Linked DNA regions of Homo sapiens. The protein of the gene in region 5 purifies or fractionates together with the protein of the main gene of each other region. This does not show direct contact. Each region holds a gene or a part of one and is shown on either strand. Other genes may lie near its edges. The genes, in order: CNOT2, MYBL2, BACH1, ISCA1, NLK, WDCP and CEP97.

Region 1 (4,184 bases), on a different chromosome or scaffold from region 5:
TATTTCCCAGTTCTTGCATGTTTTACATCTATAACATGGAGTCCAAGAAAATCTGAAATAATATGGAGTTGTTTTATAATTGATTGCAATTTGCTCACTCTGTAAGTCGCTTTCAAGTAGAATACTGACATATTCTTTTAAATTTTATTTTGTTCATTTGTATTTGAGAGTTAACTGGTATTTATAATATCTAGTCAAATATTTAAATAAAACAAGCTTTTAAACCAAAATTGTTAATAATTAATCCAATATCAAATTAAATTTTTAAGCACCTACGCATGACATGGATTACTGTTGATTTCCCTTGTATTATTTTGTATGTTGAGTTATTAATCAGTAAATGAAAATTTAGTTCTTCATTGTTACCCTGGATACTAATTTTTTGAAGTACGCTTTCATAGCATTAAAAAAAAGAAACCTTTTGGTGTATTATCATGAGGAAAGTTAACTTTATAATCTGTAGCAAAATATCATAAATATCAATTGCAATTCTCCGGATTATTTTCATTACATAGTTGGAATGGTAACAAAACCAGCAAATGAACAATCCCAGGACTTCTCAATACACAATGAAGATTTTCCAGCATTACCAGGCTCCAGCTATAAAGATCCAACATCAAGTAATGATGACAGTAAATCTGTAAGTAACTGAGAAGTGTGTATGTGAGTGATGTAGTTTTTCCCTTCAGATTTCTCTTATATTAACAATTACTTACTAAATACTATTACAAAACTGTTTTATCTTGATATCTGTAATAACCTAACTTCTGAAGAATGTGGAAAAGCTTTATAACTTAGAAGATAGCCTATTTTTTTCCTATTTCATATAGGTTTGCAAATTTCTGTTGAACTTCTCAGAGTTAATTTAGACTTTTATTGTAGTCCCTGTCAGCTGGATCCCATGAAGTTTGATAATATAGCCTTCTAAGGAGCTGTGTTTTTCTTGAGTAAGTTTTCTCCTTGAAGAATTTATACACATTTTTATACCTGTGTTGATTCAACCAACTCAGCTTCTTCTTTCTGACTTAACAAATATGTTTATTTCTTCCACATTTCACTGAAAATAGCTTTTCTCTGTGTGTGATGGGAGTTTATATATTATTAAAATAATTGATAAAGAAGATCGGTAAGAATTAAAATAAGTACAAAGTTTTAAAGCTTGTATGTCTAACTTATCTTCAAGGTAGCTTTGGTGATTTTAGGTAATATACTATATTTAGTTTCTCTTTTACATGAAAGCATTGAGGAGTGTAACTTCAAGTGTATCCCAAAGCATAAAGACCTGAGAAAGAGATAGATTTTTTTTTTTCTGTGACTGAAGATCTGAGATAAATAAGATATTTTCCCTTGATTTCTTTTTCTTTAAATACTCAAATGTGGATGATATAGGATTTATTTGTATACCATGGAACAATGATGGAAACAATTTTCTATAGAACTTGAAAAACAGGTAATAATTTAACTACCAATTTAAATGTAATAAAGAATAAATAGCAAGGTATTAATATGTGAACTTGAATTTGTATACTTAACAAATTTTAATGTCACATTTAATTTTTTTCATGCTAGAATTTGAATACATCTGGCAAGACAACTTCAAGTACAGATGGACCCAAATTCCCTGGAGATAAAAGTTCAACAACACAAAATAATAACCAGCAGAAAAAAGGGATCCAGGTGTTACCTGATGGTGGGACTCTAGAAATCTATGTCAAAGATATTATAGAATGCTTTTTTTTCTATTTTTTAACTTTTTCTTGAAAATAAAAGCAACTGTGTTTTTCCTACCCAGGTCGGGTTACTAACATTCCTCAAGGGATGGTGACGGACCAATTTGGAATGATTGGCCTGTTAACATTTATCAGGGCAGCAGAGACAGACCCAGGAATGGTACATCTTGCATTAGGAAGTGACTTAACAACATTAGGCCTCAATCTGAACTCTCCTGAGTAAGTTTTTTCTGTTTTTCCATGTCTGTATATAATACCTCTTCAGACTTCCAGTTTTTAATATCATGTCATCAAATTATCTCACCTACTGCTACTCATTGTTAACCTGCTGATTCTCTGGGTCATTCCCATTCATGTTAGCTCTTAGATCACTGTCACTCTGCAGTATTCCTTTTATAATTTGGCATTTTATGTGTGTGTGTGTGTGTGTGTGTGTGTGTGTGTGTGCATGTGCATGTATATATGTGTGTGTGTATATATATATATATACACACACACACACACACACACCTTCCAGAATCCTGAAATCTCAGCTCCTTGAATTTCTTTCCTCCAGGAATTTTTGTCCTGTAGTATACTTCAGCCACTCCTTTAGTTATCCCTTTGACCTAGTCATTGTTCGTAACTGCAGTCTCTCAATTTTAAAATCTGAGCTCGCATGCTTTCCGACTTCCACTTTCTATTTTCTATTTCTCTTCTTCTAGTACTGTGATTCCTGTAATCATTTCACTCCATTGGGACCTTCAATCTATTGATTCTTCGGTATTTTAACTGTTCTTCCAGATCCCCGTCTCTTTTCCCCTGTGATCAACTCCCTTCTTACCCATGAAATTCTGTGGTCAGTCATAATTGTTCATTTACATATCCCATGACTACTTGCCATTTTCTCATGTTGTTATACTTGCATGGCCAAAGCTACAGTACTGATTGTTTCTGCCTATTTCATTCCTGACCTGTGCTACTGAGCTCTGCTAGAGAAAAACACATGATATCACTGCCTGGTCTTCCTTTATTTTCATGCCCAGGAGCCTCAAAAGTAGGCTCTTAATTCTACCAGTGATAATTATACCTTGCATGCTTAGTCCATTTACTCTTTTGCTCTCTTATGCAACTATCGTACACTTCTGCATGCCCCTAATACCTTTTCTCCTTATTCTTACTATCAAATGATGATCTTGCTTTTCACTTTTACTGTACTAAGAAAGATGGAAGCAATTAGAAGAGCACATTTAGCACAGTCTAGCCAACAAATCTGACTACCTACAGCCACCTACACCTATGTTATTCTTGTTTTCCACCCTATTACCATAATTGACCCATGCGTTCTACTTACAACACATTTTCACACTTTGTTGGGTCATTTTCATCAACATAGAAATACATTGTTACTTCTCTCATCTTAGAAGAAAATCTTCCTTTGATCCAACCTCCTCCGTAAGTTACTTTCCCATTTCTTTATTTCCCTTTGAAGCGAAACTTTTCAAAGAGTCATCTCCATTTCTCCGACTTGGTCTTCTCCCATTCTCTGGTAAGCCCATTTCAGTCAGGATTTTGTCCCTGCCACTTCACTAAAGCTGCTTTTATCAAGGTCACCAAATGACCTTCATGTTATTAAATTCAGTGGTCACTTGGAGGAACTCTTGCTCCTTGATACACATTCTTGTACTTGAATTTGAGAGCACCATTTTTACCTCATCTTCACTGGTTGGTCTTTTTCAGTTTCCTTTGCTGGTACCTCCTCCTTTTCTTCTTGACCTCAGTGTCATTCCTCTTCTCTGCATTTACATCCTTGATGATCTTTTTCTAGTCTTATTGTTTTAAATACCATATATATTGAGGAATCCCAAACATATGTTTCCATTCCACACTTCTGAGTTTGAGATTTCTACATTCAATTGCCAATTAAATATTTCTTGAATGATCACCCCCCAACTTATTCTGTCTACAGCCTTTCCAATCTCAGTTAGTGGTAACTCTGTACTTCCAGAAACTTGGCATTATTCTTAACTCCTCTTTCTTTTATACCCCATAATCAGGCTTTTCCCAAAATATATACAGAATCTAACCAAAGCTCACTACTTTTAACTGCTACCACCCTTGTTTGAATCATTCTCTCTTGCCTGAATACTCCATTAGCCAGTCACTGGGGGTCCCTGATTGTCCTTATACCCCTTCCCGTACAATCTCTTCATATAACAGCCAAGACAATCCTTTTTTAATACATTACTCCTCTGCTCAACACCCAGTAAATGTTTGTGGTTTCATTATGATTAAAAACCCCAAATCTTTTTTTTTTTTTTTTTTTTTTTGAGACAGAGTATTGCTCTTGTCGCCCAGGCTGGAGTGCAGTGATGCAATCTCGGGTCATTACAACCTCCACCTCCCAGGTCCAAGCGATTCTCCTGAGTAGCTGGGATTGCAGGCATGTGCCACCATGCCCAGCTAATTTTTGTA
Region 2 (4,184 bases), on a different chromosome or scaffold from region 5:
AAACAAACAAACAAACAGCATTGGAGCACCAGGGAGTGTCCATGCAGACATCATTTCATCCTTGAAAGAATATTTGCTGACCTTCTGTTAGAAGCCAGGCCTTTGTGCTGGATGCTGGAGAAGCAAAGATGGTTTCTGTCACGAGCTGTCTGGGGGCAGTTGATTTTAAAGCCAACTTCATTCTGTTATTAGTATCTTCTGGATTTTTGCCTTCTATATTGAAGTGGTGGAGGACCCATGAACTGGGTCAGGAATGAATTCCAGATCCTTCTGTATTGCTGACTGTAGACACCGTCCCTCCTTTCCTATTTCTGAAAATTTTTTTCTTTTGAAATTGGGTCTTGCCTGGCCTAAAAAATTTAATTAGTATTTCTTATTGACTAATAGGCAGCAGCTTTGCACATTTTTTCATTTATTTGTATATTCAGTCAGTCCCTGGGCAAACATTTCTTAAGCCCTTTTGGTGATAAACCCTGGGATGCCAAGGTGGAGCTGACCTTTGTAGATGATGTGGAGGAGACAGGCAGTTGCAGTGTAAGGGCCCGAGACAGGAGGGTTTCCCATGTGCTATGGAAGTATAGGAGTGACTCTAGGAAGCAACGGTGAGCTTTGGAGAACAAGGAGAAGGTAATGTGGATAGCACAGTAAGCCTTCTTTCATTTGTTTCATTTCCAAACAAGACTTGCCTTGTTTGGAAACCTGTAAGCTTTTTCCAGTTTACAAATGTCTGACCTAGCAACTTACCTGACCAACGTGACCTGATGCAGGTCCTGTCGGGTGGAGTTGGGGAAAGATTACTAACTTTCCTCAAGCACCTGACATCTCTGGAGGTGGATCCTATGATTTCTTTTTTTTCTTTTTTTTTTTTTTTTTGAGACGGAGTCTCCCTCTGTTGCCCAGGCTGCAGTGCAGTGGCACGATCTTGACTCACTGCAACCTCTGCCTCCTGGGTTCAAGCAATTCTCCTGCCTCAGTTTCCCGAGTAGCTAGGACTACAGGTACATGCCACCATGCCCAGCTAATTTTTGTGGGTTTTTATTTATTTATTTTTTTTGAGATGGAGTCTCGTCTGTCGCCCAGGCTGGAGTGCAGTGGCACAATCTCTGATCTCTGCTCACTGCAACCTCCGCCTCCTGGGTTCAAGCAGTTTTTCTGCCTCATCCTCTCGAGTAGCTGGGATTACAGGCGCATGCCACCACACCCAGCTAATTTTTTTGTATTTTTAGTAGAGACATCATTTCACCATGTTGACCAGGCTGGTCTCGAACTCCTGACCTTGTGATCCACCCACCTCGGCCTCCCAAAGTGCTGGGATTACAGGTATGAGTCACCGCGCCCGGCTGATTTCCATTTTTTTTTTTTTTTTTTTTTTTTGTGAGATGGAGTTTCGCTCTTGTTGCCCAGGCTAGAGTGCAATGGCTTGATCTTGGCTCACCGCAACCTCCGCCTCCCAGGTTCAAGCGATTCTCCTGCCTCAGCCTCCTGAGTAGCTGGGATTACAGGCATGCACCATCACACCCGGCTAATTTTGTATTTTTAGTAGAGACGGGGTTTCTCCATGTTGGTCAGGCTAGTCTCGAACTCCCGACCTCAGGTGATCTGCCTGCCTTGGCCCCAAAGTGCTGGGATTACAGGTGTGAGCCACCACACCTGGCCCGATTTCCATTTTTGTAACTATTAAACTGGATAAATACGAGGATTTTTTGGAGCAACTTGGAAGATTGCCTTGTAGAGTAAAAACACCCAGAATTCAAAGCAGCTCGTACTGTTTTTTTTTTTTCCCCTACAGCGGCGTTAGAAGATATTGTACACTGGGCCGGGCGCGGTGGCTCACGCCTGTAATCCCAGCCCGTTGGGAGGCCAAGGCGGGTGGATCACGAGGTCAGGAGTTCAAGACCAGCCTGGCCAAGATGGTGAAACCCTGTATCTGCTAAAAATACAAAAAAAATTAGCCGGGCGCGGTGGCAGGCGTCTGTAATCTCAGCTACTCAGGAGGCTGAGGCAGGAGAATCGCCTGAACCTGGGGGGCAGAGGTTACAGTGAGCTGAGATGTCGCCACTTCACTCTAGCCTGGGTGACAGAGTGAAACTCCGTCTCAAAAAAAAAAAATAGATACTGTACACTGATTTTTCTCTCCATTAATTATGCCTGTGTGTAGGCAAGGATTGAAAAGGGATTTGCAAAAATGGACATAAGCCAGACACGGTGGTGCACACCTGTAATCCAAGTTACTTTGGAAGGCTGAGGCAGGAGGATCCCTTGAGCCCAGGAGTTCAAGACCAGTCTGGGTAGCATACTGAGACCCTGTCATTACAAAAAAAAAAAAAATCAACACACGAAAAAACAACTTGGCCAGTCACAGTGGCTCAGGCCCGTAATACCAGCACTTTGGGAGGCCAAGGTGGGAGGATTGTTTAAGGCCAGGAGTTCCAGATGAGCCTAGGCAAAATAGTGAGATGTTTCTACAAAAAAATACAAAATAGCCAGGCATAGTGTCATATGCAAGTTGTTCCAGGTACTTGGGAGGCTGAGGTGGGAGAATTGGATTGCTTGAGCCTAGGAGTTGGAGGCTGCAGTGAGCTGTGATTATGCCACTACATTCCAGTCTGGGTAACAGAGCCAGACTCTGTCCCTAAAAGAAGAAAAACAACAAATGGACATAGAGAATATATTCAGAATTTTTTTTCCAAATAACTAATATCTCTTAAAATCTTGATGCCTGTTAACTTCATCAACTTTATTCCTTAAAATATCCATGCAGGTTTGTTACTGAAAGGAAAAAGCGATAGTCTGATTTTGAACATAATATTCTTGGTGAAATCTTAACTTTCTTTTTCCTTTTCTTTTTTTGAGACAGTCTTGCTTTGTCACCCAGGCTGGAGTGCAGTGACATGATCTCGGCTCATTGCAACCTTCACCTCCCGGGTTCAAGCAATTCTTCTGCCTCAGCCTCCTGAGTAGCTGAGATTACAGGCATGCGCCACCGCACCCAGCTAATATTTGTATTTTTAGTAGAGATGGGGTTTCACTGTGTTTGATCAGGCTGGTCTTGAACTCCTGACCTCAAGCAATCCACCCACCTCGGCCTCCCAAAGTGCTGGGATTACAGGTTTGAGCCACTGTGCCTGGCCTCTTTTTTTTTTTTTTTTACAGCTTTTGAAATCACTAGGGCATTCCTGAAAATAAAAAAGAAGAAAGTAGCTCTTAACCCTATTTCATTAAAAAATTTAAAAAGAGGTGAGGTCGGGTGTGGTGGCTCATGCCTATAGTCCCAACACTTTGGGAGGCCGTGGTGGGAGGATTGCTTGAGCCCAGGAGTTCAAAACCACCCTGGGCAATATGGTGAGACCCCGTCTCTACAAAAAATACAAAAGTTAGCCGGGCGTGGTGGCATACCCCTGTAGTCACAGCTACTTAGGAGGCTGGGGCGGGACGATCATTTGAGTCCAGGAGTTCAAGGCTGCAGTGAGCTACGATCATGCCACACTGAATTCCAGCCCAGTGACAGAGTGAGACCCTGTCTCAATAAAAATAAGTGAAGCAGAAGTGCCTATGTCTTAAAAAGAAGAAAAAGTAAGAGCCTCTCTCCCCCAGACCTTTCCCTAGGGTGGGCTGGCCGCTGCCTACACGTTCTCCATTATGTAAAACATATGGACACACCATCCTTGACCCTTGGCCTGCTTTCCCCATAGCGAGGATCTGGATGAGCTGCACTACCAGGACACAGATTCAGATGTGCCGGAGCAGAGGGATAGCAAGTGCAAGGTCAAATGGACCCATGAGGAGGTGAGTGCCATGGGGAAGAGAGGGTTGATGGCAGCTGGGGGCTGTCCAGAGGAACTGAGCCTGGAGTGTATTTGATGTCTCATCAGATGGGATGAAGAGGAGGAGCCGGTGAAGGAAGGGATGGGTCCTCTGATTGTCCTCATGCCTCTTCTCAGAGCATTCTGGGGGATTCTCAATTTTGAGGACTCAGTGGGTGGGAAGGGGATGTGTGTCCTAGACCTCAGGGCCCATTGTGTCTCCTGAGCAGCTGCCATGTTCTATGTCATGGACATTGATTGTGCTTTTTGCCTTTTGACTGCTAGGAGGTTTGGCCAAATCTGTAACTCCCCCCACCCTTTTTTTTTTTTTTTTTTTGAGACAGAGTTTCGCTCTTGTCACCCAGGCTAGAGGGCAATGGC
Region 3 (4,184 bases), on a different chromosome or scaffold from region 5:
CTATTAGACTGTAACTTCTGAAAAGTTCATTATTGCCAATATCTGGAAAAGTTCCTGGCTTATAAAAGCCTAAACATTTGTTTCATAAGTTAAATGTAAACCAAATGCCTAACATGTAGGAATGCCACAAATATTGACATGAATTTAGCAACCCTACTGTCCACATACACTGAAAGTTAAGTATGCGTTCATGTGAGTTGGGGGAGAACAGCAGCAGGAACAGGGAGAAAAGAGAACACAGTGCCTTAGCCTTGAAACTTAAAAACACAGTTTTTCCTCACTCTTCAGAGATTAGAGAGCTGTTCCAAGCTAATTCAACAAAAAAGAAGAGGCTGTTTCCACACTGGCATCTGAGAAGCAGTGGTAGGATAGCTCTCTAGAATCTCAGCTCCTCTGCTATTTGTGACCACTGTTGCCAACCTGCTCAAAGAAGAAAAGGTGGCCCAGCCTTTCTGGGGTCTGGAAAAAGACAAACTAGTCCAAAGACAGGAGGCCCTCAGAGACAAAATATACTTTTTAGAAATCTAAAAAAAAATACCTATAGTTTGAATAGCACTTGTGACAGTCTTTTACCACAAAGAGACAACGAAGTAGGGAAAGTTAATCGTAATTACATGCTCATCCCCAAGCAGCATTTCCTTTGACTTCTCTGGATGACAACTGAAACTGAAGGCATGCCAGCAAAGAATCCGAGTGAGCTGGGCAAAATGCTCTCTACTTCAACAGTCTTTTGCTAATGTGAAAGAAAAAAAAAAAAACAAGATTACAAAAGCCAAAAGCTTTTTTTTTTCTTACCTCTTTTAACCTGAATTATGACTCTTACCTAGGGGAGTACCCAAGGCCAGGCTGAGATACACCTCAGAAAAACAGTTGATAAAGAGACATCAGGTACACTGGAAATTGAAGAGGCCTGGGCCAAGATCAGATAACCACTGTACATTTTTTAAAATAATATTTAAATATAAAATACACATTAATGAAATTACAACCTAATAAATTTATTCAATCTTTTATAGCCACATATTTTATAACAAAACTGTCTGATGGATGAGCAACTGCACTAATTTAGCTGACTTCTGAAAGACGCTGGCACACTTTAGAAAATGAATAAGGCAATAAGCATGTGAAGATATCAGTAAAGAGGAAGTTGGGTGGATAGGTCGCCCTATTTCTTCAATAGGACCCTCAGGAGTTCACCTCCTTAGGACAAAAACACCTCCCTAGGGTCCTGGAGGCAGACAAATCAATAAAAAGAAGAGATAACTGGAAAAAAGGTGTGTAGGGGGAGGGAGGGACATTTCCCTTACTATACTATTTACTCTACAGCCTTAGAGGTAGGCTATTACTAATGTCCAGGCTACAAAGGAATTGAAAACCTTTTTTAGTGTAATTCCACTTTAATGAGGGATGGGGAAGTAGAGTGCAACTGTCCACTGACTGATCTGATCTAAAAAAATGATAAATTTAAAAAGTGAAAAAAACTTTACCTGAAAGAAACTGGGAATAATTAGGGGCCAGGCACAGTGGCTCACGCCTGTAATCTCAGCACTTTGGGAAGCCAAGGCGGGTGGATTGCTTGAGGTCAGGAGTTCGAGACCAGCCTGGCCAACATGGTGAAACCCATCTCTACTAAAACACAAAAATTAGCTGGGCATGGTGGGGGGTGCCCCATAATTCCAGCTACTACGGAGGCTGAGGCAGAAGAATTGCTTGAACCCAAGAGGCGGAGGTTGCAGTGACCCGAGATCGCGCCACTGCACTCCAGCCTGAGCGACAGAGTGATACTCCATCTCAAAAAAAAAAAAAAGAAAAAAAAAACTGGGAATAACTAGTTTATTACAAAAATATTAGTTTGAACGATGACTTTCCTAAGGCACTGCAAAAAGTGTTTACATTTATTTTTCAAATAACATGATCTGCACAAAATTTCAGCTGCATTAATGTAACATTTTCTAAATTGTGCCCGTACTGAGAAGGAACCAGCTGCCAGCCAATTTCACTGCATGCCCACTGTGTTTCTACACTGGTCATTAACAACCAAGATTCTGGCTACCACTATTTCTTCTTCCTCACGTTTGCTTCAGGGCAGTTTTTTATTATCCTATGAATATTTGAATATTTTCTAACCTGTCCCTGATCCTAAATAAAACAAAGAACCTGTTCTAGAGGAGTGATATTCAAAGTATTAGACATATAAGACATTTAACATCTAGAAAACCAAATTATATTTTGCTCAATTCAATTCTAATCCAATTATGGGTAAAAATAAGTCACAAGACAAGTTTTATGTCTATCTTAGGAGATGAACTAGAATTACTTAATTCCAGCTGCCTTCTCAATAATCACACCAATGATAAAAACAGAAAGTAGAAAGCTAAATAATCAAAAGAATTTCAACTCAGTGCACACTTACAAGGTACCACACACGATGTTCTCTCCTTCAATCTGTTAAACATTCCCAAGTTTCAAAATCACAGAACTAGAATGAACGCATATCATACCACCCAGTTCAGCAACCAACAGTTTATTAAAGAAACACAGCCAAGGCACATTCAGAGTGCCATAGGAGATAAAACAGAAAGACACAGATTCTCACCATCAGGAAACTTACAATCTGGCTGAAAGAATGGTCAAAATAACACAACCTTTCTGAATTACTAACAGGTACAAAAAGCTATACGATAAATATGTCCATTGTATTCATATCCATTTCATGGATAATTTTTCTGTATTAGTACAGGCATATCATCTAAAGAAAACATAATACTTAGAAGAAACTAATTAGCTTACAAATTTACATTCTAAATGTTTCCAACAAACTGGATAGGGCCCAGGAATATGTACTGAGAAACTAGTTCTGTTCTGGTATTAACAAGAAGGGAGGGGTGGACAGGTTACTAAAGCTGCCAGGCCACAATGTCAACTACAACGTGGAAAAGACTAGCCAAAGAATGGCAAGTGTTTTTATTTCGTAAAAGCCAGTTTCAATTAACTGGTTAGTGACTACCTCAAGCACTCCGCTGAGACTGTTAAGATTCCTTTAAGTAAAAAGCTATGTCCTGTGTTCGTTGCCCTCAGAAGTTGGATGTATGTTTGAGATGGTGCTACTGACTTAACATAAGAGTGTTCCCCGGGTTGTTTTTCCAGTCTCACTTGTGATCAATGCCGGCAATTCAGCTCTCAACAGCTATAAAACACTACTGTGTAACTAAGTACTTCCCTGATTCTGAACAACAGATAATAACACCTAACACTTGATGTTTCTTATAAAGCTGGCACTGTTCTAACCACTTACCCCGTATTAACGCATATAATCCTCACAACAACCTCTCTGATACAGATTCTACTATCACCACCCCTGTTTTACAGAGGAAACAATGAGGCACTAGTTACCAGGTAGAAGAGCTTGCCCAAGGCTTTAAAGTGGGTGACACAACCAGAACCTGACCTTAAGCAGTCTGGCTCCAGAACTACTTTTTAACCATTCTGCTTACTGCTTCTTTGTCAACTGTACAGTGATCAAACCCAGACTTCAGTTATGTTAGTGCACTGTGTAAGCCAGGTGCCTGGGCTTCAGGAGAGTGTAAGTCAATGTTTTAGCTGCAGTCCTGAAATGTTTACTCCCTCCAAGGGGCACGGATTCTGGCGAATTGCACTCAAATTACCCATACCTTGGCCATCGGTACATTACCTCATTTGACATATATTTTAAATCAAAACAATCTCAAAAATCATCGTTCCACCACATAAAATAAACCCTCTGTCTAGAATGCTCAGGGAATGCAGGTTTTAGGGTTAAGACAATTCTCTCATTAACAGAACATTAGTCAGAAAATTAGAAGAGAGGTGGTGATTCCTAAAACGTAAGTCATGGAGAGATCAGCACTATGAAGAGAAAATCTGACAAGTGGTAATTTTAACGGGCTTTGCAACTGTTATTCTGAGCATCACCTCTCACAGTACAGGGGTGTAGAAGGCACATGGCACATGAGATTTAACTGAATGGTAAATACTAACCACCCTCACCGCCGCCACCCGCCCCCAGCACTAGTAGGAGGTTGATATTCTGAATAAATGCCACTTCCCAAGGGATTTACTGAATATGTCGTCTTATTAATCTTAAGAGAACATAAGCTTGGCAAAAAACAAACAAAAAAAAACAGACTTCAAGGAGTAACAGTACA
Region 4 (4,184 bases), on a different chromosome or scaffold from region 5:
CAACTTTAAATAGTTACAGAAATAGTTATTATTTTTTAAAGTGCTCATTACCCTTCTAAAGCAGTGGTCCCAAATGTTTTTGGCATCAAGGACTGGTTTCGTGGAAGACAATTTTTCCACGGATAAGGGGAATGGTTTCTGAATGATTCAAATGCATTACATTTATTGTGCACTTTATTTCTATTATTACATTGTAATATATAATGAAATAATTATATAACTCATCAAAATATACAATCAGTGGGAGCCCTGAGCTTGTTTTTCTGCAACTAGATGGCCCCATCTAGGGGTGATGAGAGACAGTGACAGATCATCAGGCATCATTCTCATAAGGAGTGCACAAACTAGCCCCTCACACCTGCAGTTCAGACTAGGGTTTGTGCTCCTATGAGAATCTAATGCCCCTGATGATCTGACAGGAGGTGGAGCTCGCTTAGGTGGTAATGCTTGGCTTGCCTGCTGCTCTCACCTCCTGCTGTGAGGCCCTGTTCCTAACAGGCCATGGACCAGTACCAGTCTGTAGCGCAGGGACTGGGGACCCCTGTTCTAAGTGATTGTCAATAAAAGCTAGCTTTCTTATCAACCACATGTAAATTTTCACCATATTTTCCTATGTGCATGCTGAAGAAATTAATCACTTACTGTCAAATAAAAATAGCTTTCTGTAAGTTTATTTTAAAAAGGCATAGCCTGGCTGGGCCTGGTGCCTCATGCCTATATTCCCAACACTTTGGGAGGCCGAGGTGGAAGTATCACTTGAGGTCAGCCAAGGTGGAAGGATCACTTGAAGTCAGGAGTTTGAGACCAGCCTGGCCAACATGGTGAAACCCCGTCTCTATTAAAAATACAAACATTAGCTGAGGATGATGGCATGCGCCTGTAATCCCAGCTACTCCGGAGGCTGACGCATGAGAATCGCTTGAACCCAGGAGGCGGAGGCTGCAGTAAGCCGAGATCATGCCACTGCACTCCAGCCTGGGAAACAGAGTGAGACTCTGTCTCAAAAAAAAAAAAAAAAAAAAAAAAAAGGCATAGCCATGGAAAATATCCGCGGGAACTAAAATCTGAAACGTGGTCTTGGTTTAATCTGAGTGGATCAAAGGCACAGATGGGCACACCACTGCATGATCTAAACAAAACAAATGTGTCTGTCACACTACTCCGTTTACCAGCCCCAAATATATAATTTTTTTTATCTCCAAGTGGTTTTCTAAATTATCTAATTTGGTTTTACAAAGTCATCTATTTTCTTATTTTCTCAACTTTTAGCAGGAAACACTTAAATACAGTAAATGAAAGCAATTCGTGGGGATTGGTCTACTTATCACCAAGTTGCTGATGTTCACATCTCATACTGAAGGACTCTTTAAGGGAAAAGTAACATTCAACAGGAACCTGTGTGCCTGGGAAGCTGCTGTTACAGGAACTAAAATATGTCTTAATTTTCCTGTGCCAGGCCAAAACCAAACCTACTCCACTGGGAGGGTGTTACTAATGATGGACAACCCAGGTCAGTACTCAACCAAGGGAAAAGGTTCTTAGAACTTTCAAAGTGACTGATCTGATTTTCAGAACAAGGGAGAGTGGTTAAAAGGGAAGAGTTGGGACTTAAAAAAAATCGAGCTATAAGAGGTACTTTTTGTGTCTCAGTACCAGGGAGAGGCTAAGAATCCTACCCTGCTTTAAGTCTACATACTCTGGCAACTTTGTGCTTAGGTAAAATTCATGTGAGAAACAGCATAAAATCTTCAACTACACAGCATGCTGCAGGGCCTAGCAGCCTGCCAGTACCAGTGCACTTCCCAGAACAACTAAGAAACATGTAATTCTCAAGAAATTTATGTACTATTAATGAATATAGCTTACCTGAGATTTGGCCCATGTTTTAAAATTTAAGAGCTTCCTGAAGCCCACTAAAATATGATGGTTTTTACTCACATGCAAATCACAGGAATATGACTTTTAAAGTGAGAGGTTATCTTTGAGGTAAGGTATTTTGGCCTAATTGAAAAATAAATATATTTCCAAGATGTTTCCGCTGTTAAAATTAAGGGAAAAGGCATTGTAGATGAATGTTTTATCACTACTTCATAGCAACACGCTTTCTAATCCTTGTAGGAGAAACTTTTCATTCTCAATCCTGTATTTCTTTAAGTAACTCCCCAGGCAATTTTCATTTTTTGCTGTTTAAGAAAATTAAATTAAATTCAAAGCTAAAGTTAACTCTGTGATTATGCATACTAAACATGTGCCAACAACTACAACTTAATTTCTCTACAAACATGGCATTTTAATGTCAACATATCAATTTTCTGGGGGAACAAAAGATGGTAAATAAATAGAGCCAGTGAACAAGTACAGTGTATTTTATTAAAATCATTCTTTAACAGCCATGGCTGGCATTAGAGTGTCAAAATAAGAAAAGACAAAAGCATTCTCTTTTGTCTTTTCTTATTTGTGTATATGTGTATATACACATCCAAAATACATATAATATACAAATATATATTTGTAGGCCAGGTGTGGTGGCTCATGCCTGTAATGCCAGCACTTTGGGAGGCCAAGGTGGGAGGACGGCTTGAGGCCAGGAGTTTGAGACCAGCCTGTGCAACAGAGCAAGACCCTGTCTCTACAATAAATTAAAAAAAAAAAATTAGCAGTCAAGGTGACATGTGCCTGTAGTCCCAGTTACTTGGGAGGCTGAGGTGAAAGGATTGCTTGAGCCCAGGAGTTTGAAGCTGCAGTAAGCCATGATCATGCCACTGCATATGAGCCTGGGTGACAGAGGAAGATCCTGTCTCTAAAAAGAAAAAGGTTTGTAATCATGGCATATATACATAATTTTGCAGCCTCCATTGAAACAATTTAACAAATTATTTTTTCATTTGATACATGGTAATAAACATATATTCACCATTTACTGAGCACCTTCTAAGTGTTTAATGGTTTAAACGTAACATCTTTTTATTCCTGCCATTGTGATTTAGGTATTAAAGATTAAATAATTTGCACAGCATAAGTCAAAGAATGAAGATTTATAACGCTGAAACTTAAAAAAAACCATAATTTACAATGACTACATCCTTCACCAACAGGATCTACTCTCACGTACTTAACCGTTCTTTCACTGTTAGACTGCTAGGCTACTTCCAGTGCTTCTTGTGTAGTATTTCCTAAACTGCCTTCGTATAGAAATCTTAGTGCTTGGTCACTGTTCAAAAGGACTTCTGGTTCTAGTCCAATGAACTAACACACAGTTCCTTACTGAGCATTAAGCATTTCCTAGCTTCTCAACTGGACTCCAATAGAAAGTTAAGCCCTAAGGCACCTTCCGTACACAATGAATTCATCAAGAATGATAGTGGCTGTGCACCATCATTCTCTCATAGAACTTGGTTGAGTTTTAATGCACAGCTGTGATCCACCCCAGTCCTACAAATTAGAGTTGCTCTGACTTGTACAATGATGGAAATAAATCTGTCTGCAAGCAGGGCACTATTTACTCTTCAGATTCTTTAATCACATCTGGCTCCTGCAAGTTCAATTCCACTTGTCAATTTCTAGATATGTAGGGAAATAGGGAAGATGTAGATAATCTGATAATGACAGCATTGAACTGTGTTATATTATCAGTTACTTTTCCTAGCCTTTTGTTGACATCTGGTAGACTCCACACATATAGCACTTTTCAAATGTTGCAACATGTCAAATTCCTAACATCAAAATTTATATATCCAGGTAACATTTATCCCTTCCAATCAGTTTTACTGAATTAGGTATACTTGTGTTTGCTCTTATCTGTCTCTACTTATTAGACCCAAGTAACATTTACCTCTTCCAATCAGTTTTACTGAATTACGTATACTTTTGTTTGCTCTCTTATCTGTCTCCATTCATTAGGCCTTTGACGGCATCACTACTTTTGCACTTGACGATACATGCTGATGATAAACTAAGCACAAAGAGCAATACATGCCATAGTGTCCTGACTAGGGCACGAATGCTGGAACTAAAATGACTGCAAGCCCACCAACACAGGCTGTGTGGAAAACAGCATTGATGTGCCTTCTCTCTGGTACAGCTTCTGAGAAGCTTCTAAAGTCAGCCATACTTAAGTAGGACAACAGAGTACAGACAGTAGACTCCTGCAAGTTAATCAAAACAGCTGAGTCAGGCAACATGGA
Region 5 (4,184 bases):
CTCCAAAAGTAATCTTACCTTCATTGACAGTGACTGGTTCAGAAATGAGTATGTAATCCAACAAAAGCCAAAGAGAGGCCAGGTGCGGTGGCTCAGGCCTGTAATCCCAGCACTTTGGGAGGTCAAGGTGGGCAAACTGCTTGAGCCCAGGAGTTTGAGACTAGCCTGGGCAACAAAGTGAGACCCCATCTCCACAAAAAAATAAAAAAAATAGCCAGGTGTGGTGACAGAGCAAGACTGTCTCAAAAAAAAAAAAAAAAAAACACCAGAGATCAATATGCTGGTGCTGGTCAGTAGCCATGTGTGGCTACAGAACACTTAAAATGTGGTTAGACCAAACTGAGACATATTCTAAGCATGAAGATACATAGTGATTTTGCAGACTCAGTATGAAAAAAAAGTAATATAGATCATTAATAATTTTTATAGTGAATACATGTTGAAATGACAATATTTTGGATATAGAGTTAAAATACATTACTAAAATTAATGTCACCTGTTTCTTTTCAGTTTTTTACTGTGGCTACTAGAAAATTTAAGATTGCATACTTTCACTATGTATTTACTGGATAGCACTGCTGGTTTGCTGAGGGTGTCTGCAAAAATGCTCCCTTCCTCTTGGACAAGAGCTTTAGGAAGTCACTCTCCCTCTTTGGGCACTGTAAGCCCTAAACTACTACAGCCTGAAAGCTGTGTCAAAGCTCATTTTCTGGGAGGCCCACATGCAAACTAGTAACTCTCTTATCCAAATTCAGAATTTAAAAGAGACTCCTGGAAAGAAATTTGTTTTAAAGAAACTTGCAAATTAATGTAAGCACTGGCTCCCAAATCATCTTACCTGATTACTCACACACAAAAGATGACAAAATACTGAACATTAAATTTTATTTAAAAATTTAAAAATCACTCAAAATATTGTAAGAAAACTATTGTAAGACTTATAAGAAACTAAGCAAGTTTTTAAAGTCTAAAACACTAAAAAGGTAAATATTATCAGGAAAATAGTAGTATCAAATGGACATGTAGAAGAAATTGCTCATTTGCAAACAGGCCTGCTCTTCTCCACAGCTGAACTACATGTATAATCCTTACCAATAACTCAGTAATAGAAGAAAACAAGTCTCTTGATGAAAAAAAAATGAACATTTAAAATCTAATCCCAAATTAGAAAACTCTATAAAAGTCACCACTCTGGAACAGGGTGACATTTATCTCATTCCTCCTTTAAACAATTTTAGAAGCTATTCAACACTGTAGTCCTGAAGAGAGAAAGTTGTCTTGTGGTCACCAGCAAACTCCAACAAATATTAATATCATTTTATAATAGAATCTTAGGAAACACAGGATTTTATAAATGAGAAAACCAAGGCTCAGAAAGTTTAAATAACTTTACCAAGGTCACAGGGTTGTTGGCAGCAAGGCTAGGACCAGAACCTTGTCTCCTAACAAGTTTAGTTTAGTAATCTATTACCCCATTGTTTAAAAAAAAAAAAAAAGCCGGGCGCAGTGGCTCACAACTGTAATCCCAGCACTTTGGGAGGCCGAGGCAGGCCGATCACGAGGTCAAGAGATCGAGACCATCCTGGCCAACATGGTGAAACCCCGTCTCTACTAAAAATACAAAAATTAGGCGGGTGTGGTGCCACGTGCCTGTAATCCCAGCTACTCGGGAGGCTGAGGCAGGAGAATCCCTTGAACCTGGGAGGTGGAGGCTGCATGAGCCAAGATCATGCCACTGCACTCCAGCCTGGTGACAGCGGAAGACTCTGTCTCAAAAAAAAAAAAAAATCCTTCCCAAGGAAATGGCACCTTGAACATCAAGTTCTCTGGTTTATTAAACTAAAAACAAACAAACAAACAAACAAACAAACAAATGAGATTTGGAAGAATTGTATTAATAATTTTAAAAAATTGTAAAAAGTAATACTGAATACTTAAGACATTCTTTAGAATCAATCAAACACAATCACTCTCTCAAATGCCATCAATGATCTATTTACTATCAGGCTAAATACAATGGCCTTTTGGCCTTTTCTCCATCTTAATTTTCTGACTTTTTTTTTTTTTTTTTTGAGACAGGTTCTGACTCTGTCGCCCGGGCTGGAGTGCAGTGGTGTGATATCAGCTCACTGCAACCTCAGACTCCTGAGTAGCTGGGACTACAGGTGCGTGCCACCACACCAGGCTAATTTTTTTTTTCTGTACTTTTAGTGGAGATGAGATTTCACTATGTTGTCCAGGCTGGTCTCGAACTCTTGGGCTGAAGTGATATGCCCACCTCAGCTACCCAAAGTGCTGGGTTTACAGGTGTGAACCACCATGGCCGGCCTTCTTTGACTTTTTATCAGCACCAAAGATCACTCCCATTTTCCTAACAATCTTCTGCCATACTTAGATTGTCAATCATTGTGAACACATTTTCCTAACTGCCCTTTAGTTCTGCTTCCAGTAGCTTCTTCCACCTACAACTGAGAACATTCCCTAAGACTCAGACAGATCTCAGTTCTCTCTACTCTTCTATTTTACATATCCAAAAAAAAAAATTAAATCTGACGAAGTCTCTCTTACTTAAAAACTTTCAGTAGTTGCCATTCGCAGTTTTAACCTTTTCTCATCATTGCCCGCCTACGGAGCCTTTTTAGGCTATTTTCCTAATCATCCCCTCGTAAAATCTTAATACCACAGATATGCTATTTAACTGTTTATGTGCTATATGTCCACATATGCTTTATTAATAAAAAGCTGTTTTTAGTGCCTCAAGCATGACATTCCAACCTCTTCATGATTGAGCTCTAGCTTACACTTCCTACCACCCACTGCACTGCACATTCAGCATCTCCAGCCCTGTAGTCTCCTGCATATAGGCCCTTCCACCTAGACTGCCCTTCCCCATTGGTTGACTCTCATTCTTAAAACTCATTGAAGAATTACCTATTTTAGGAAGCATCCTGACCTTCCATAGAAATCCCTCCTCTACACGCCCTTAATGTCCAGGGACTATCTCTATTGCTGCATTTATGGCAATGAATTATAATAATCCATTTACAAATCTATTTCACCCAGTAGGTCATAATCACCTTTAATCCTTATCTCCAGCACAGTGCCTGGCAAATAGTAACATACAATAATTGAATATTGTAAGAACAAGTGAAAATAATATATATATTTTTTGAGACACAGTTTCACTCTTGTTGTCCAGGCTGGAGTGAAACGGCACGATCTTGGCTCACTGCAACCTCTGCCTCCTGCGTTCAAGTGATTATCCTGCCTCAGCCTCCCAAGTAGCTGGGATTATAGGCATGTGCCACCACACCTAGCTAATTTTGCATTTTTAGTAGAGACGGGATTTCACCATGTTGGTCAGGAGGGTCTTGAACTCCTGACCTCAGGTGAACCGCTCCTCGGCCTCCCAAAGTGCTGGGATTACAGGCGTGAGACACCATGCCTGGCCTGAAAATAATATATTCTTAAGTTTTTATTTAATGGTTTCAAATTTAGTTTCACCTCTCCACCAAGGCTGAGGACACCCTGAGAGTAGGCATGTTTCATTGTTCATATTGTTTACTTGACTGTCAACTCCTCCAAAGCAATATGGTGACTTAAACATCCCTATACCTCAGTACTAAGCACAATACAGACAACAGCAGCAGCAGCTTAATAGAGGTTCGCAAAATTATTTATAAGACTAAATATCCCCATTTGGTGCTTGCAAAAGTGCTGGTCCACAGCGAAGTGACAATAAAAATATATAGACTAGTGAGTTCCAAAGGTGTTAAAAACTTTCACTGCCTCATAGTAGATATGACTCAATTAGCCAAATTATTTCAAAACTGGGTTTAGGTAAAGAGCACCAATCATTATGAGTGGCAGACATCCCCATATATACTCCCTCTACTCACACCATTACAACTAAGAGTTAAAGTTCAATCTCAGTAGAGTTCACTTAGAAGTCATCTTTCCATAATGCCAGAGTACCAGTTTTTTCTGTTTCTGCACTAGGTACCTTACAACTACTGACTATGTCTATCATGACTTGTTATGTGCTCACTGACAGTGTTACAACTGTTGCCTCAGACACTCTGTTACTTCCAAGCAATATCAGGATCACACTGACAAGCTATTTTAGTTATTGTTGACCTGTATTAGATGGCCCAATCAACAAATAATTCACTGGAGTAGCACAG
Region 6 (4,184 bases), on a different chromosome or scaffold from region 5:
CTCGAACTCCTGACCTCAAGTGATCCACCCGCCTTGGCCTTCCAAAGTTCTGGGATTACAGGCGTGAGCCACCACACCCGGCCCTATTATACTTTTAAAAAATTGATCATTTATTCCTTTTGTAATGAGAAAAGTAAAAGTTACACAATAATCAAAAGCAAGAAATAGTTTCCCCTGTAATTTCAGAAATTACATTTCATAAGACGTGAAATAAATGATTAGTTGGTTTTGACTTTTACAGTTTATTCCTGTGACTTCATTTAAAAATATTAGTGGACATATTCTTTGAGTGGTTCATCCTACCACAGTGATGTATAGTTTTATTTTCTTTTTATGAGATGGGGTCTTGCCATGTTGCCCAGGCTGCTCTCCAATACCTGGGCTCAAGCAATCCATGCACTCTGGCCTCCCAAAGTGCTTAACAACAAAATAAGTTAGACACATAACTTATACAACTGTCCTTCATTTATTTATTTATTTAGAGATGGAGTCTGTCTCTGTCACTCAGCCTGGAGTACAGTGGCACCTTCTCAGCTCACTGCAACCTTTGCCTCCTGGGTTCAAGTGATTCTCCTACCTCAGCCTCCCGAGTAGCTGGGACTACAAGTGTGTACCACCATGCCTGGCTAACTTTTTTATTTTTTGTAAAGACAGGGTTTTGCCATATTGCCCAGGCTGGTCTTGAACTCCTGGGCTCAAGTGATCTGTCCATCTTAGCCTCCCAAACTTTTGGTACTAAGGGGTGAGCCACTGTGCCCAGCCAATTTTTAATGACTTTAAAATTTACAAATCATTTATTTTTATTTGTGCTTTTTCTAAGCTATGTGAATTTTGACCATGGTTTGTTTATTTTATGCAAATCCTCTGCTACTCTACCACTTAGGACACTCTCTCGGCATTTTTTTTCCTAATAAACCATGAGGTGTCTTAGCTATATCTGAAACAGCCAAGAAGGTGTTCTTACCGTCAGATTGTGTCTCTCAGGCTGCTGTCCATCATCCTTTTAGTGTTATTAGTTGTATTCTAGGAGAGCCAGTTCCTAGTGATGAAGAACCCTGAGGAAAGAGTAGAACAAAAGGAAAAATAAGGCTGTTTTGTTCGGATTTTTTAGTTGTGTTAAATAATGCAGCAAAGAGCTCCTTAAAACTGAAGTCCAGTTGATTAGTGGTAATAGATAAGAATTTTTTAAAAAACTATTTACACATTCCTTTCTTAAGAAATGTTAACTCGATTACTTCTGCAATCAGTTTAACAACTTTTATTTTTTATTTGCAGAAACCTTATTATCTAGGTCCTGTTGTTGAAAAAAGAGCGGTGCTTCTCTGTGATGGTAAACTAAGGCTCAGTACAGTTCAGCAGACTTTTGGCCTTTCTCTCATTGAAATGCTACATGGTAGGTCGTGCTCAGAAATTGACCCTAGCTAACATCCTTGCCTCCCCCACCATCTGTTTTAACTATGCCGGTAATGAAAATGAGGGATACCAACCATTCAGTAATTCACTGGATAGTTAACAAGTAATCTATTATTATTATTATTATTGAGACAGGGTCTTGCTCTGTTGCCCAGGCCAGAGTGCCTCGGTGTGATCATAGCTCACTGCAGCCTCGAACTCCTGAGCTCAAGCAATCCTCCCATCTCAGACTCCCAACTAGTGAGAACTATAGGTGTTCACTACCATGCCCAGCCAAGTTTTGTTTGTTTGTTTGTTTGTTTTTTGGAGATGGAGTCTTGCTCTGCCACCCGGTCCTGGAGTACAGTGGCGCAGTCTCAGCTCACTGCAACCTCCGCCTCCCGGGTTCAAGCAATTCTCCTGTCTCAGCCTCCTGAGTAGCTGGGACTACAGGCGCACGCTGCCATGCCTGGCTAATTTTTTGTATTTTCGTAGAGACGGGTTTCACTGTGTTGCCCAGGCTGAGCTCAGGCAATCCGCCTGCCTCGGCCTCCCAAAGTGCTGGGATTAAAGGCGTGAGCCACTGCACCCAGCCTCAGCCAAGTTTAAAAAAAATGTTTGTAGATAACGGGGTCTCACTCTGTTGCCCAGGCTGGTCTTGAACTCCTGACCTCAAGTGATCCGTCCACCTTGGCCTCCCAAAGTGCTATGATTACTGGCATAAGCCACCACACCCAGCCTTAACAAATATTATTAATTGCCTACTATATACCCAGGCCTAGTATAGGTGCCAAAACATATGGAAAATATGCACCCTGCCCTTAGGGAACTTACAGCCTAGCTGGAAAAGTTAAATGTACATATGAAAAAATAAGAAAAGACTTACAAAGCAGTGTATAACAACTGCAAGGAAGTAACAGAAAGCCTCATTTATTTCTGTTGCACTAAAATGTAAAGATCATAGCAGCATTGCAGAATGTTTCTTTCTTTCTTTTTTTTTTTTTGAGACCGAGTCTCACTCTGTCACCCAGGCTGGAATGCAGTGGCATGATCTCGGCTCACTGCAACCTCCGCCTCCTGGGTTCAAGCGATTCTCCTGCCTCAGCCTCCCGAGTAGCTGGGACTACAGGCACATGCCACCACGCCTGGCTAATATTTTGTATTTTTAGTAGAAATGGGGTTTCACCATGTTAGCCAGGATGGTCTCGATCTCCTGACCTCGAGATCTGCCCGCCTCGGCCTCCCAAAGTGGTGGGATTATAGGCGTGAGCCACTGCGCCCGGCCTACAGAATATTTCTTTGAGGAGTTGCCATTCTAATATGGAGTAAACATGGATGTTCAAAGGATATTCCTAAGTGGCAAGGGACTGAGTCATGCCAGATTCATCAGATGTGGAGCATGGTTGTTTTCTTATGCCTCATTCTTGTAACAGTAGCCACCACATTGAACATCAAATATCATTTCATTTTTTCCCCTTTTTCTCCTACCTGACCCTAAGTAATACCCAGTCTTCCCAATACCCCATTCTCTGTAAAATCTTACAAGGATTGAGTTGAATATTATCAACTACTATATTCCTTCACTCAGAAAAAAAAATTTGTAGTCATATGTTTCATCATAAGAATAATATATACTAAATTGCCTGTGTATTTATTTTTATTTGCAGATTCCCACTGGATTCTTCTCTCTGCTGACAGTGAGGGCTTTATCCCGTTAACCTTCACAGCCACACAGGAAATAATCATAAGAGATGGCAGCCTGTCCAGGTCAGATGTCTTCAGAGACTCTTTTTCTCACAGTCCAGGTGCTGTTTCTTCTCTTAAAGTCTTTACAGGCCTTGCTGCCCCCAGTTTAGATACCACTGGCTGTTGTAACCATGTAGATGGCATGGCTTGATATCTGCAGTGTCCTTGCTGTGTAGCTCTTCAGATGAGACCATTACAAACAAGGCCTGCTTGACACTGGACACTCGCCAATGAGACTCCCACTGCACTCAGGCGAAGCGCTTGCCATGGTCGGCTCTCCTGGTTTCCCCCTGTTTCCCCTGAGCTGAGGCTCGCTGCTGTGTAGCAGAGCTCAGTCTTTATTAGATGGCTCCGAAAGTGGTGTTTATGTATTCATGACTGTGTGGTTTTGACTAAGGGCAGAATTCTCAGAACAAAACAATATTATGGTGCCATATGGATGGTGTTTTATGGTTTCTCTGAGGCTTTGTGTCCCTTGTCCAAAGCTGCATTGAAGCTGTCTTAGGAGCACTTAAAAGATACCTTGGCATTGTTATAGGTCTTTTTCTTGGCTTCAAGAGGAGGTTGAGGAGTCTGCTGGGGGGCATGTGCTCTAGCATATTAACCTCAAACCAGCAAGAATTAGCAGAGCTCCAAGGAGGACCAGAGACCCACTGGCTTCTGCTCTCAGGAACAGGAAGTGGCTCTGATGTTGCCTGGACCTCCCAGAATTTAAACCAAACCCTCTTGCTTCCTTAACAAATTCTGGCTGACGAAGGTCCAGGTACTCTTAAAAACTGGCCCTGGGAAAATTTTGAATGAAATTTCAAGGGAATTTGTCCCCTCTGGGTTCCACTTGAGGTTGTGCCGATGCTGCTACCACACTGTCGAGCCCAGGTAAGTCCTACTGCAGGATTTTGTGCTGTGGCCACTCATGAGTGTCCCTGAAATAACTTTTTTTTTTTTTAAATCCAGTTTTGGGATCACGCAACTTTCCTATTTTTCTCCCAGTAGTCAGCTCCCTTAGTTAACTTGTCACTTTAATTTGATATTTTTATTTTCTCTCC
Region 7 (4,184 bases), on a different chromosome or scaffold from region 5:
AGAGAATTCAAATGAACCAAAGATGATTGAATTTTTTTTTTTTTTTTTGCTGGAATAGAAGCCTATTTATCTGATCAGAATCCTGGGTGTTCAGTTTTGGGTTTATTCTTGGTTGTTGCTGACTTAATGTGAGTCAGCTTTATCTGCAAGTAACACATTCTACCTCCCTTTATTTTTTAGTTACCTAGAGAATACAGTTGCAATTATGGATGTAGGTTATCACTCTCTTTTTTGGAAAATTTGCTTTATATGTGGTTGTTTTAATGACTTTTTTTTTTTTTTTTTTTTAATTTGAGACATCAGAGTCTTGCTGTCACCCAGGCTCGAGTGCAGTGGTGCAGTCATGGCTTACTATAGCCTCGACCTCCTGGGCTCAAGTGATCCCCCTACCTCAGCCTCCCCAGTAGCTGGAAATACAGGTGCACCTCATCATGCCTGGCTAATTTTTTGATTTTTAGTAGAGACCAGGTCTCACTATGTTGCCCAGGCCGGTCTCAAACTCCTGGGCTCAAGCAATCTTCCCTCCTTGGCCTCCCAAAATGCTGGGATTACAGGCATGAGCCACCACACATGGCCTCTATTTTGATATTTTAAAAGAAAATGAAAAAGTGTGTTAGAAATTGCTCAGTGTCTCATAAGTTAAATCTCACAGCATGCCTAGTTGCTATGCCAAGCATGTGTTTTTGGACAAGTCTTTAAAATATCATGAGCTTAGGATGTTGGTATGAAAACAGAGAGTTGGACCAGAAGATCATCAAGGACCCTTGTAGCATTAACAGTCTTTGATTTGTGTGTGATGAGAAATATAATAAAGTAGATTCCTTTATTCTTATATGTACCATTTTGGTGTTGTCACAATAGGCCAATTTATTTGTAATCTTTTCATTTGTAATTCATACTGTTTTTACTTTCAAGACCCTGCTTTTACATGGAAACATCATCACCTCTCTTAGAATGGCACCTGCTTACCTACCCAGAAGTCTTGCTATACTTTCTTTGGCAGAAAATGAAATCCGAGACTTAAATGAGGTAAAATTTGAGGGTATTTTGTGAGATTCAGGAAGCTGGAAATCCTAGGAAAGACACAGGAGAGGGTTGTGAGCTTACTTTTAGACTGTGAGCATCTTGGAAGAAACTGCCATTCATATGAAATGCTTGGCTCTAGATCTTTCCACTTTTCCTTAGTGTCAGTGGGTCATTAAGGTCTAATTTCCTTTGTAAAGCTGTAATTATCATTCCACTGGGAGGCGATTGGTGGTAGAGGGACATCTACGTTATAAGGGTTTATAAGACTCCCTGTCCACCTTTCCTGGCTGCTGTGATGTTTTCAAAATAGGGTTATTTCTGCTAGGAAACAGTGCTGATATTTGCCAGGGGATTTTGTGCAGCAGGGACAGATGGCTATATTGTTGAAACTTTGGAAGTCAATGGACACTTGTCACTTTTCAGAACAAGAGGGAAATTATCACATTCTCAAATGCTGCCAAAGATATGTAATCAGTGGAAATTTTGTGCTTGACACTGAATAGTCCTTTTGTTCAACAAAGATATCTTTTGTTCCAGATCTCTTTTTTGGCATCCTTAACTGAATTGGAACAGTTGTCGATTATGAACAATCCTTGTGTGATGGCAACACCATCCATCCCAGGATTTGACTATCGGCCGTACATCGTCAGCTGGTGCCTAAACCTCAGAGTCCTAGATGGATATGTGATTTCTCAGAAGGAAAGGTAAACATGTGCTCTTTAACATCACAAATGTTACTGAAAAGACCATTTCTAGTTTACTACAGATTAATAGAGTATTTCTTAAAATGTGCATTTAGATAACAAGAGTATTAGTGCAGTCATGTAGCAGACTATATGCTGGTCATTTAGGATTTTCTGTCATTTCTAAAAAAGGATAAGAAATAAATATTGGCCTGGTGCAGTGGCTCATGCCTGTAATCCTTGCACTTTGGAAAGCCGAGGCAGGAGGATTGCTTGAGCCCAGGAGTTTGAGACCAGCCTGGGCAATATAGGGAGACCACATCTCAAAAAAAAAAAAAAATTAGCTGGGTGTGGTGGTACACACCTGTAGTCCTAGCTACTTAGGAAGCTGAGGTGGGAGGATTGCTTGAGCCCAGGAATTTAAGGTTACAGTGAGCTATGGTTGTGTCATTGCACTCTACCTTGGGTGACAGAGTGAGACCCTGTCTCTGAAAAAAAAAGAAGAAATCTCGGCCCCAGAGATTGGAGCTAGTAGTCTTAGTGCCCTACATACAACAATTTGATTTCTAAAAGTTCTTTTGTTAATCAGTTGTTTGGAGCTTGGAACACTTTTGCTTAGAAACCATCATGTTATAGATCCTGTGTAGGATCTCAGATCAGTCTCACAAAAGCTTGTAATATATTAATCTATCACATATATAAGGGCCGTATTTTTTATTCATTTTATTTTCTATTTTATCATCCAGCTCCAAATGCCATGTAAGGGCAGTATTAGTAGTATCTTAGAATTCTCCAAATACTCATTATAATGATAACTCTGGGAAAATGCAGAGTTTTAATTTGGAACTAGTAGCAGATGTGGTGATTGGTCCTCCTCTTCTTTTTTTTTTATTTTTTTATTTTTTATTTTTTTTTGAGACGGAGTCTCGCTCTGTCGCCCAGACTGGAGTGCAGTGGCGGGATCTCGGCTCACTGCAAGCTCCGCCTCCCGGGTTCACGCCATTCTCCTGCCTCAGCCTCCCGAGTAGCTGGGACTACAGGCGCCCGCCACTACGCCCGGCTAATTTTTTGTATTTTTAGTAGAGACGGGGTTTCACCGTTTTAGCCGGTATGGTCTCGATCTCCTGACCTCGTGATCCACCCGCCTCGGCCTCCCAAAGTGCTGGGATTACAGGCGTGAGCCACCGCGCCCAGCCTTTTTATTTTTTTTGAGACTGAGTTTCACTCTTGTTGCCCAGGCTGGAGTGCAATGGCGCGATCTCTGCTCATCACAACCTCCACCTCCTGGGTTCAAGCGATTCTTCTGCCTCAGCCTCCCAAGTAGCTGGAATTATAGGCATGTGCCACCACACCCAGCTAATTTTGTATTTTTAGTGGAGGCAGGGTTTTTCCATGTTGTTTAGGCTGGTCTCAAACTCCTGACCTCAGGTGATGCGCCCGCCTCGGCCTCCCAAAGTGTTGGGATTACAGGCATGAGCCACTGCACCTGGCCAGGTTCTCCCCTTCTTATACCTGTGAAGCAGCAGAAGCAAGAATTCCCCCACCTGTAAATCATTAATAGTTTCTGTGGCTTGGAGCTGGGATCCCTGCAGAATGGAGTCTTCTGGACCCTGATACCTGATCAGTGGAATGAGAGCTTTAGGGGAGGTAAGGAACTAGGATATGGGAAGGAGGGAGTGGAATTGGGATAGTGAGAGTTGAGATGACTTTATTCTGTCTACTATGCTTCATTTAACTTTTTTCTCTCAGTACATACACACATGCATTATGGACTCAACACATACATTATCCCTCGCCTTTTTTTGTTCTTCTCTACTACAGACAGTAGTTACTTCAGGAGTTTCCTGATGGGAGGACGGGTGGTAGATTACAGACAGCGTCTCCCTTCTCTGTCTCTCTGCTGTTTTGTATAGTTTCTGAGTAAAGCACAGGGCCGTGAGGAATGGCAGCCAAGAGCTAGATAGTGGTGGTGCTGGTGTAGGGTGAGGGACATATGTCAGGTCTAGTTTGCCTACAGGAAAGGGTGGCTTTTCTTTTTCCTGCTGTGAATGTTGCTCTGAGAATAAACCTTATTTTGTTTCAAACTGTGACTAGTTCTAGATTTGGAATATGGGTTTACTTGGATAATCCTCTGTACAGTTGTTGACTTCTTCTGTGGGAGTAGGACTGGCAACATTTTCATGTCTGAGAGGCAGCATGGTGATGTGGGCAGAGATAAAGGTTTGGTGTAAAGAGAGACCCACAAAGAGAGATGAGACCTGCTTACGATAGACAGGGGAAGGCTTCACTTTTTTCTCTGCTATCTATTAGCTGTGTGGCCTTGTCAAGTTCCTTAGGGCTTTTCTGAGGCTAAGTTTCCTCATCTGTAAAATGTGAATAGCGGTACTACCTTGCTTTCATGGATGGTAGGATTAAGGATGATGTATAGAACATAGGACTGGTCATATAGTAGGTGCTTAATAAATGATATTATAT

Evidence for each region.
Region 1: the proteins of NLK (region 5) and CNOT2 purify together in Homo sapiens (affinity purification with mass spectrometry; 2 studies listed by BioGRID and IntAct, with this or other methods). This does not show direct contact.
Region 2: the proteins of NLK (region 5) and MYBL2 purify together in Homo sapiens (affinity purification with western blotting, with the first as the bait; one study listed by BioGRID). This does not show direct contact.
Region 3: the proteins of NLK (region 5) and BACH1 purify together in Homo sapiens (affinity purification with mass spectrometry; one large-scale study listed by BioGRID and IntAct). This does not show direct contact.
Region 4: the proteins of NLK (region 5) and ISCA1 purify together in Homo sapiens (affinity purification with mass spectrometry; one large-scale study listed by BioGRID and IntAct). This does not show direct contact.
Region 6: the proteins of NLK (region 5) and WDCP purify together in Homo sapiens (affinity purification with mass spectrometry; 2 studies listed by BioGRID and IntAct, with this or other methods). This does not show direct contact.
Region 7: the proteins of NLK (region 5) and CEP97 purify together in Homo sapiens (affinity purification with mass spectrometry; one large-scale study listed by BioGRID and IntAct). This does not show direct contact.

Annotation. Positions count from the first base shown.
Region 1 is NC_000012.12:70,336,874-70,341,057, forward strand, and holds part of CNOT2 (CCR4-NOT transcription complex subunit 2), read left to right. Parts: intron 1-515; coding exon 516-640; intron 641-882; coding exon of another isoform or gene 883-912; exon of another isoform or gene 913-1,546; intron 1,547-1,569; coding exon 1,570-1,690; intron 1,691-1,792; coding exon 1,793-1,949; intron 1,950-4,184. UniProt on the Homo sapiens protein: Component of the CCR4-NOT complex which is one of the major cellular mRNA deadenylases and is linked to various cellular processes including bulk mRNA degradation, miRNA-mediated repression, translational repression during translational initiation and general transcription regulation.
Region 2 is NC_000020.11:43,670,114-43,674,297, forward strand, and holds part of MYBL2 (myb-related protein B), read left to right. Parts: intron 1-3,692; coding exon 3,693-3,786; intron 3,787-4,184. UniProt on the Homo sapiens protein: Transcription factor involved in the regulation of cell survival, proliferation, and differentiation. Transactivates the expression of the CLU gene.
Region 3 is NC_000021.9:29,301,753-29,305,936, reverse strand, and holds part of BACH1 (transcription regulator protein BACH1), read right to left. Parts: intron 734-4,184; exon of another isoform or gene 615-733; intron 1-614. UniProt on the Homo sapiens protein: Transcriptional regulator that acts as a repressor or activator, depending on the context. Binds to NF-E2 DNA binding sites. Plays important roles in coordinating transcription activation and repression by MAFK.
Region 4 is NC_000009.12:86,275,869-86,280,052, forward strand, and holds part of ISCA1 (iron-sulfur cluster assembly 1 homolog, mitochondrial precursor), read right to left. Parts: exon of another isoform or gene 2,349-4,184; intron 1-2,348. UniProt on the Homo sapiens protein: Involved in the maturation of mitochondrial 4Fe-4S proteins functioning late in the iron-sulfur cluster assembly pathway. Probably involved in the binding of an intermediate of Fe/S cluster assembly.
Region 5 is NC_000017.11:28,048,968-28,053,151, reverse strand, and holds part of NLK (serine/threonine-protein kinase NLK), read right to left. Parts: intron 1-4,184. UniProt on the Homo sapiens protein: Serine/threonine-protein kinase that regulates a number of transcription factors with key roles in cell fate determination. Positive effector of the non-canonical Wnt signaling pathway, acting downstream of WNT5A, MAP3K7/TAK1 and HIPK2.
Region 6 is NC_000002.12:24,030,038-24,034,221, reverse strand, and holds part of WDCP (WD repeat and coiled-coil-containing protein), read left to right. Parts: intron 1-964; exon of another isoform or gene 965-1,016; intron 1,017-1,275; coding exon 1,276-1,393; intron 1,394-3,059; coding exon 3,060-3,289; 3' UTR 3,290-4,184.
Region 7 is NC_000003.12:101,730,925-101,735,108, forward strand, and holds part of CEP97 (centrosomal protein of 97 kDa), read left to right. Parts: intron 1-915; coding exon 916-1,029; intron 1,030-1,563; coding exon 1,564-1,730; intron 1,731-4,184. UniProt on the Homo sapiens protein: Acts as a key negative regulator of ciliogenesis in collaboration with CCP110 by capping the mother centriole thereby preventing cilia formation. Required for recruitment of CCP110 to the centrosome.